Linked DNA regions of Homo sapiens. The protein of the gene in region 2 purifies or fractionates together with the protein of the main gene of each other region. This does not show direct contact. Each region holds a gene or a part of one and is shown on either strand. Other genes may lie near its edges.

Region 1 (3,760 bases), on a different chromosome or scaffold from region 2:
TTTGAAGAAGTCTTTTCAAGTATATGTAATTTTGGTTCCTCTTTTCCCTCTACTGTGAAATTATATAGGAGACAAAGCATTATCTAACTGTGAACCTTACCACTCTTCGAGTATGGTGTTATGCTTGCAGCAAAGAAGTATTTTTGGATAGGAAATTAGGAACTCAGCCTTCATTGCCTCATGTAAGACAACCTCACCAAATACAAGAAAACAGTGTCCAGGTAATAATCTAGATCCACTTAGTTAAGCTGTAAAACATTCCGGTAATAATTTCAGAATTTGTCATGTAGCTGAAATTTTCAAAAGGAATACTGCCTAACCTGTACTTTGAAAATTTCTGTAATGTGCCTTTTTTCTCTCAAATAAAGCACTCAGACTCCCCTTTCTTGTGTTGCTTAGAGTGCTAGATTAGGGTGAGATTGAAGCCCACCTGTTTGAAGATGGAAAAGGCCCTAATGAATTTTTGAAGTTTTTTTTTTTAAATGACTCAAGTAGTCTTTATCTTTTTCTGGTAAGTCTGATTTCAAGAAAGGTGGTGGGCCTTCTTTGATAGCATATGGCAGTTACTAATTCAGCTCTCTTCCCCGTTCTCTCCTCCCCTCCATCCCCTTTGTATTACTGTGAACATTTTACTTATTATTGACAACAAAGTAGAATATAATAAAGCTTAGCATCAGTCTTTGGGTTAAAGATTTTTCTCCCTTTGGGCTGGGTGCGGTGGCTCACGCCTGTAATCCCAGTGCTTTGGGAGGCCAAGGCGGCTGGATCACGAGGTCAGGAGATCGAGACCATCCTGGCTAACATGGTGACACCCCGTCTCTACTAAAAATACAAAACATTAGCCGGGTGTGGTGGCGGGCACCTGTATTCCCAGCTACTTTGGAGGCTGAGGCAGGAGAATGGCGTGAACCTGGGAGGCAGAGCTGGCAGTGAGCCGAGACCTTGCCACTGCACTCCAGCCTAGGTGACAGAGTGAGACTCCATCTAAAAAAAAAAAAGAAAAAAAGATTTTTCTCCTTTTGGATCAAGAGACTTAGAAAACACATGGGTTTGCTTGCAGAATTTATCACTTAATTTTCAGAATTCTTAAAGTCATAGAAAAATAGGAAAAAGGAAATTAACTTAGAATAGTTGGCTTCTTAATCAGATCATCAGTTGATCAGAATTTGATCAGATTTGATTAACAGCAAGTTTTTTTCCTCATGTGTGTTATAGAAATCACATATTTCTGTACTTGTTCATTGATACCAACTGTCAGGTTTTTCTGTTGTATGTTTGTATCACATTCTTATGGTAGATATTTGTGATAATAAATTTGCTTGCCTTACACATGAAAGATGGCTAGATTTTAGTCAAAGAATAATTTCTTGCATTTTCAGTTTCTCAGTTGAATGGCTCTAGTTAATTATAACCATTACTGTTTCTCCCACTTATACCTATTTATCATTCACAAACATGTTTAGTCTTTTTCAAAAGTCCAGATAGTATGAAAATGGCCGTTTCGTTGAATCCTCTTACATTATTAACAAAAGTTTGTCCCACTGAAGATAGCTGAATGGTAATAAGTAGAAAAAGTTTTAAAAAAGAAAAAAGTGTAATGTTATGACTAAAGTTTAATCACACAAGGAACTAATAATATATAAAGGCAAAACTATCAGCATCACTTACTAGAGAAGTAAGTTAAATAAGCTATCTGTTGCCATTTCTGCCAGAAAAGATCAAGATTACAAACTTTAATAAATGTTGAATCTGATAGAATAAGTATACTGATACTTTCCTGATGGCTTGTTAATAATTTTCTGATGACTTGTAAATATGTTAACACATAAAAGGCATAAACTTAATTTCATTCAACTTCCTTATGATCCCATTGTTGAAGAAATTATTCAGAAGAAAACAGTGGTTCAGATAGATTTCTTTAGTGGTCCAAAACTTATATGCTGTTGAAATCCAGTTTACCACAGGATATTTGCAAAATAGTAAAATATTGGAGGCCATGCAAATATTAATAAGATTTTTCAAATAGACATTTTTTCTAGATAGTAAAATTTCAGGTGATTTAAGCCTCTGTACTTCTGTGTATTTAGATATTTTGTAGTGAGCATGTATCTTTTTAAAAGCAATTACTTTATGAAAACAAAATGAAAGTATGAAGTCCACTCAAATGTCCAGTCTCTACAGATGTCAGGAAAGTAAAATCGTTGGGAATTAGTGCATATGCCTGCATTTTAGAGGTAAAGTAAGGCTATAATAACTTGGAGAACCAGAGTACATGCTAAATTCTTTCTGCTATTCAGTTTCCTTCTCTGTTTGGGTGTTGCTGAATGTTGGTTCATTGTAGTTCAATCTTCTGATATTACAAGAGAACTTTCAAATTTTGATTTTTATTTGTCGTCTCCGAATTTTTTAAACTTTAGCTCAAAGTTTTTTTCGTTTTTTTTTTTAAAGTGTTTACTAGCATTTGGCTAACAGGTTATCAGTTGCAACCTCTGAGTCAAGCCAATTGTTGGAAATTAATATTAGAATATTATTATTTAAAGTAAGTGCTTGAACTATTTAATATACGTAAAAGTGTGCAGGCCGGGTGTGGTGTCTCACACCTGTAATCCCAGCATTTTGGGAGGCCGAGGTGGGCGGATCATGAGGTCAAGAGATCAAGACCATTCAGGCCAACATGGTGAAACCCCTTCTCTACTAAAAATACAAAAATTAGCTGGGCGTTGTGGCATGCACCTATAGTCCCAGCTGCTTGGGAGTCTGAGGCAGGAGAAGCGTTTGAACCCAGGAGGTGGAGGTTGCAGTGAGCTGAGATCGTGCCACTGCACTCCAGCCTGGCAACAGAGTGAGACTCTGTTTCGGAAAAAAAAAAGTGTGCAAAGTAAATACAGTAATAAGTATCAGGAGAGATTGTAGAAGTCTATAGATAATGTGTTATGATGAAAAACTTTTGCCTTTTTCCCTGTTGAAAATGAGATCTGAGAAGACAGTGTAGGATAGTATCCTTCGGAGATCTTTTTAGCTATGGTTTACTGTCACATAATTGCAGTTATTGTGGAGTTTTAATTCAGAAAATTCGGTTGTAAAAAGTGCCTTTTTAACTCAAATATATATGTTAATAAAGCGGGACTGACATGCTATTACCCTAGGGTTTTATTTCCTTCAAAATATAAATGTAAGTTTAATTGCTAATACCACAAATTCTTATGGTTCCACTATTAAAATAACATCTCAATAATTTTTATGGTATAGATGTTATATAAGTTACAATTAAAACTTTTTTTAAATTTAAGGATTTGTTCAAGTGTGCTATCTTTTTTTGTTATCAAGGATTTTAAAATACCCAGTAATACAACATTAAAAACTCCTCTGGTTGCCGTATTTGATGATCTGGATATAGAAGCGGATGAAGAAGATGAACTTAGGGCCAGAGGTAAATTAATCCTGTGTAACGCTTCTTTGTATGGCACTGCCCATTTCTTTAGAAAACCATATAATGTAAAAGTTTCAAAATGTGGAGGTAAAATGGGCTTGATAATTAAAACAAAAGGACTCTGAAATTTGGCCTAGTAAAATTTTATTTGCAAAACAAACTTTTGGTTTCTCTGGTGTCAGTTTACCAAAGGTAGGATCCTACTTACTCTTTTGCAGTTGAGCCTTATGATCTTTTTGTTTAACTTGCCTTTTGAGGTCTGTTTGAACAGTGTTTCTCATTTTTCTATTGTCAGTGATGGGGAGGTATTAGGTATAAAGGTATTCCCTT
Region 2 (5,215 bases):
AACCTGAACTTCCAGGGCTGCTGAAGGTGTCCTCCTGCCTCAGCCTCCTGGCCACCATACCTGCTATTTTTTTTTTTTTTTTGGTAGAGACTGACTGGCTATTTTGACCAGGCTGGTCTTGAACTCTTGACCTCAAACGTTACTCCCACATGGGCCTCCTAAAGTGATGGAATTACCGGTGTGAGCCACTGCACCTGCCCACCTGGCCTGTGTTTTAGTTTTTAAAGGTTGTGTGTTCACAAGACACAAAATTTACAAAGTGTAAAAGGGTATCTTTTCCAAGTCATCAAGTTTTCCTTGGATATGACCAATACTACTGTTTTCTTTTCTGTCTTTCCAGAGATAGTCTGTGTAAAGCAAATATGTACATGTTCTTTTTCATTCTTTGGCTTTTTATTTATTTTAAAGACCGAAATACTGTCTATTTCTTTGATTTTAAAAAGGAAAAATCTTTTACAAGGGTTGAAAAACTACCTATCAGGTACTATGTTCACTGCTTGGATGATGGGATCATTAGAAGCCCAAACCTTATATTATGCAGTAGACTCATGTAAACAAACCTGCACGTGTTCTCCCTGTCTGAAGTTTAAGAGGTACAATAAAAAACTTTTAAAAGATGTGTGGCATAATTTACAACTCTTCTGAACATTTTACGCTTAATATATCTTGTAGATACTTTTTGCATGCATTCATTAAGCTTATACATTCTCTTTTGTGACTGTTAACATTCCACTCTATGGATGTGTCATCATTTGTTTTACCATTTTAAGGACTTCTCTCTTCCTGTCTAGTCTTTTGCTGTTATAAGTGGGAATGCAGGGGATAATCTTGTATAGATATCATTTATCACAGGTGTGTGTATTTAAAATAAAGTCCTATAGTGGGTTTTAACAGTGAATTAAGAAAACTTAAAGTCCTGGGAACAATTCTTTGTCATAGGATGATATATGGATTTGTACTTTTGATATTTTCAAGTTGCCCTCTCTTAGAGATTCTATTATTTTATACTCCCAGTAACTGCTTAGGGGAGAATGCTGGTTGACCTAACCCTTTCCAGCACTACCAGGCTTTGATTTTTGCCAGTCTGATAAGTAAAAAAACAGTATCTCAAGATGACTTTAATTTGCTTTCCTCTTAACTATGTACATATTCATAGCCATTTGCGTTTATTATCCTTTACTCATTTTTCTGTTAGGTATTTGGTCTTGTTGATTTGTAGGAAGCCTTTAAAAATTATTATTACTGTTAATGTATTTTTATTTTTTTTTTTGAGTCAGAGTCTCGCTCTGTCACCCAGGCTGAAGTGCAGTGGTGCCATCTTGGCTCGCTGCAACTCCACCTCCTGGGTTCAAGCAATTCTCTTGTCTTAGCCTCCCGAGTACCTGGGATTATGGGCGCACACCACCATGCCTAGCTAATTTTTTTATTTTTAGTAGAGACAGGGTTTCACCATGTTGGCCAGGCTGGTCTTGAGCTCCTGACCTCAAGTGATCTGACCTCCTTGGCCTCCCAGAGTGCTTGGATTACAGGCGTGAGCCACTGCTCCCCCGCCGCTATTATTTTTTAATAGAGACGGACTTTCACTACGTTGGACAGGCTGGTCTGGGACTCCTGACTTCAAGCAATCCTCCTGCCTTGGCCTCCCAAAGTGCTGGGATTATAGGTGTGAGTCACCATGTCCAGCCCCCTTTTTATATTAGGGAAAGGAGTTCTTTATAAGTTGCAAATACCTTTTCCTGGTTAGTTTGCTTTTTGATTTTGCTTAAATGATTTTGCCAGATTAAAAAATTTACAGAATATTAAATTTTATTTTATTTTTATTTCTTTGAGACGGAGTCTTTCCCTGTCACCCAGGCTGGAGTGCAGTGGCGTGATCTTGGCTCAGTGCACCTTCTGCCTCCTAGGATCAAGTGATTCTCATGCCTCAGCCTCCTGAGTAGCTGGGACTACAGGCGTGCACCACCACACCAGGCTAATTTTTTAATTTTTAATAGAGATGGGGTTTCGCCATGTTGGCCAGGCTAGTCTCGAATTCCTGGCTTTAAATGATCCACTGGCCTCAGCCTCTCAAAGTGCTGGGATTGCAGGTGTGAGCCACCACACCTGGCATCATATAGTATTAAATTTATCACTTTTTTTTTTTTTGGCCTTACTGGTTTTAGATTTTGTGTCTTATCAAAAAACTTTTCTCAGGATTTAGGAATAAAAAAATTAAATATTAGAGTCATCTGGAATTTATTTCAGTGTAAGGTCCATTGAGTTCCAGTGATTTGTCATGGCTTCTTTAAACGTGTGTACTAAGAAGTTAGATAGCTTTTTACTTATTTATGGAACCATGTCTTCTGAACCATATGAAGAACTAATTCTGTACAATTAGCTCTTTGGGATGAAAATGGAACTTTACTTATTTAATTTACTCATCACTGGGGAACTTGCTATATAAAGGAATCTTCTGGTAAATTCATAAAGTGTTAGGATGCTTTAAAAATGCATAACCTTCAAATTTAACTTTTTAATTTTGTATACTTTTTTAATAATGAATATACTCTTTTGTTTCTTTGTGTGAGATTATAGTATTTATAGTGAATTGTTAGAGGATTAGGATATAAGCACCTTAACTAATTAGATTAAAATGAACTTTAAAAAATGATTAGATATTCCAGAGTAAATATTCTTACTGTGATTGAAAGAAAAGCTTAGAAGCAAAGTCTTAGAAGAATTTAGGAATATTTTGGGGATAACATAATCGTTCTTGTATTTTTGTTCAAGAAATAAATACTCACTTGATTAAAGGGTGTTTTTTGTTTTTGGTTTTTTTTTGCTTGTTTCTTAGGATGGGAAGGCCATTGTGACTATGTGGTGATTACAGTTGTCTTACTACTGAGTTTCCTACTGAAATCATGGAGGAGAAACAGCAGATTATATTGGCTAATCAAGATGGTGGAACAGTGGCAGGAGCAGCACCTACCTTCTTTGTCATCTTAAAGCAGCCAGGAAATGGCAAAACTGATCAAGGAATTTTGGTTACTAATCAGGATGCCTGTGCTTTGGCTAGTAGTGTGTCATCACCAGTAAAATCTAAAGGGAAGATTTGCCTTCCAGCTGATTGTACTGTGGGTGGAATCACTGTTACCCTCGATAACAATAGTATGTGGAATGAGTTCTATCATCGAAGCACAGAGATGATTCTGACCAAGCAAGGAAGACGCATGTTTCCTTACTGTCGTTATTGGATAACAGGTTTAGATTCAAATTTGAAGTATATTCTTGTCATGGATATATCTCCTGTGGATAACCATCGTTATAAGTGGAATGGTCGTTGGTGGGAACCTAGTGGGAAGGCTGAACCTCATGTTTTGGGGAGGGTTTTCATTCATCCAGAATCTCCTTCCACAGGTCATTATTGGATGCATCAACCAGTATCTTTCTATAAACTCAAACTTACCAACAATACACTGGACCAAGAAGGGCATATCATCTTGCACTCTATGCATCGTTACCTGCCGAGGCTTCATTTGGTGCCTGCAGAAAAGGCTGTGGAGGTGATACAATTAAATGGCCCTGGTGTCCACACTTTTACCTTCCCACAGACTGAATTCTTTGCAGTAACAGCTTATCAGAACATTCAGATTACTCAGCTGAAAATAGATTACAATCCATTTGCCAAAGGCTTTCGGGATGATGGGCTGAATAATAAGCCCCAGAGAGATGGAAAACAAAAGAACAGCTCTGACCAAGAAGGGAATAATATTTCCAGTTCTTCTGGTCATCGGGTCCGTCTTACAGAAGGTCAGGGGTCAGAGATACAACCAGGTGATTTGGATCCTTTGTCAAGGGGTCATGAAACATCAGGCAAGGGTTTGGAGAAGACTTCCCTTAATATAAAACGAGACTTTCTTGGTTTCATGGATACTGATTCAGCACTTAGTGAAGTTCCTCAATTGAAGCAAGAGATTTCTGAATGGTAAGTAGTAGTTTTTCTGTTCTTAGAAATAAAAGGAAGATTGAGATGGGCCAGGTGTTGGATTTAACATCTTGGTTCTGTGGAATGCTACAGATGTTGATAAATGTAAGCCACTATAAAATATACTACAACTGCTTTTACATTCTGTGAAGTGACATCATTTTTCTGTAATGAGAATCAGTTGGGTTCAGGATCTAGAATTGTAGGCAAATTGGATAACTTATCAGAATTATTCATATGTATTTAGAATGTTCCTTGATATCCTTGGGGGATTGGTTCCAGGACCACCCAAGAATACCAACACCTGACTACATTTGAGACTCCATCTCAATAAAAAAAAGAAAATCATACCAATTATGACAACATAGATGAGCCTAGAGAATACTATGCTAAGTGAAATAGGCAAAACAAAAAAAGACAAATACTGCAAAATATTCATAAAAGTAGAAAGTAGAATGGTGGATGCCAGGGGGTAGAGAGAGACTGAAAGATGTTGGTCAAAGGGTACAAAGCTTCAGTTATGCCAGGTAAATTTTAAAGAAAGAGTAAGCATACTATTTTTTTTGAGATGGAGTCTCGCTCTGTCGCCCAGGCTGGAGTGCAGTGGCATGATCTCCGCTCACTGCAAGCTCCGCCTCCTGGGTTCACGCCATTCTCCTGCCTCAGCCTCCCAAGTAGCTGGGACTACAGGCGCCCGTCACCACGCCCGGCTAATTTTTCTATATTTTTGGTAGAGACAGGGTTTCACTGTGTTAGCCAGGATGGTCTCGATCTCCTGACCTCATGATCTGCCCGCCTCGGCCTCCCAAGGTGCTGGGATTACAGGCGTGAGCCACCGTGCCCGGCCGTAAGCAATACTGTTTTAACAAGTAATAATTTTAAGCTTCTTCTTTGGTTGGGCAATTTATGGATTAGGATATCCCTCAGGCAGTAAATTCACAAATATTAGATACAAATAACGACTCTGAATCCATTTTGTGCCTTATATAGATAAGTTTTGTTTCCATTATGATTTGGCGTTATTTTTCTTCCCTTCTTCAATTATAGTAGGCCCACCACATCTACTGGTTCTGCATCCACAGTTATAGCTGGCCAACTAAGGGACTTGAGTATCCTCAGATTTTGGTATCTGGGGAGGGTCCTGGCACCAGTCCTCCTCAGATACAGAAAGTTGCCTGTAATCATGAGTTGTCTATACAATCAGTATTCCGTGGAGGCTGCAGCTGTGTATTCAACTAACCACAAATCCAA

What was found. The genes of interacting proteins can lie anywhere in the genome.
Region 1: the proteins of MGA (region 2) and USP33 purify together in Homo sapiens (co-immunoprecipitation; one large-scale study listed by IntAct). This does not show direct contact.

Annotation. Positions count from the first base shown.
Region 1 is NC_000001.11:77,735,726-77,739,485, reverse strand, and holds part of USP33 (ubiquitin carboxyl-terminal hydrolase 33), read left to right. Parts: intron 1-68; coding exon 69-221; intron 222-3,327; coding exon 3,328-3,430; intron 3,431-3,760. UniProt on the Homo sapiens protein: Deubiquitinating enzyme involved in various processes such as centrosome duplication, cellular migration and beta-2 adrenergic receptor/ADRB2 recycling.
Region 2 is NC_000015.10:41,665,995-41,671,209, forward strand, and holds part of MGA (MAX gene-associated protein), read left to right. Parts: intron 1-2,833; 5' UTR 2,834-2,900; coding exon 2,901-3,964; intron 3,965-5,215. UniProt on the Homo sapiens protein: Functions as a dual-specificity transcription factor, regulating the expression of both MAX-network and T-box family target genes. Functions as a repressor or an activator.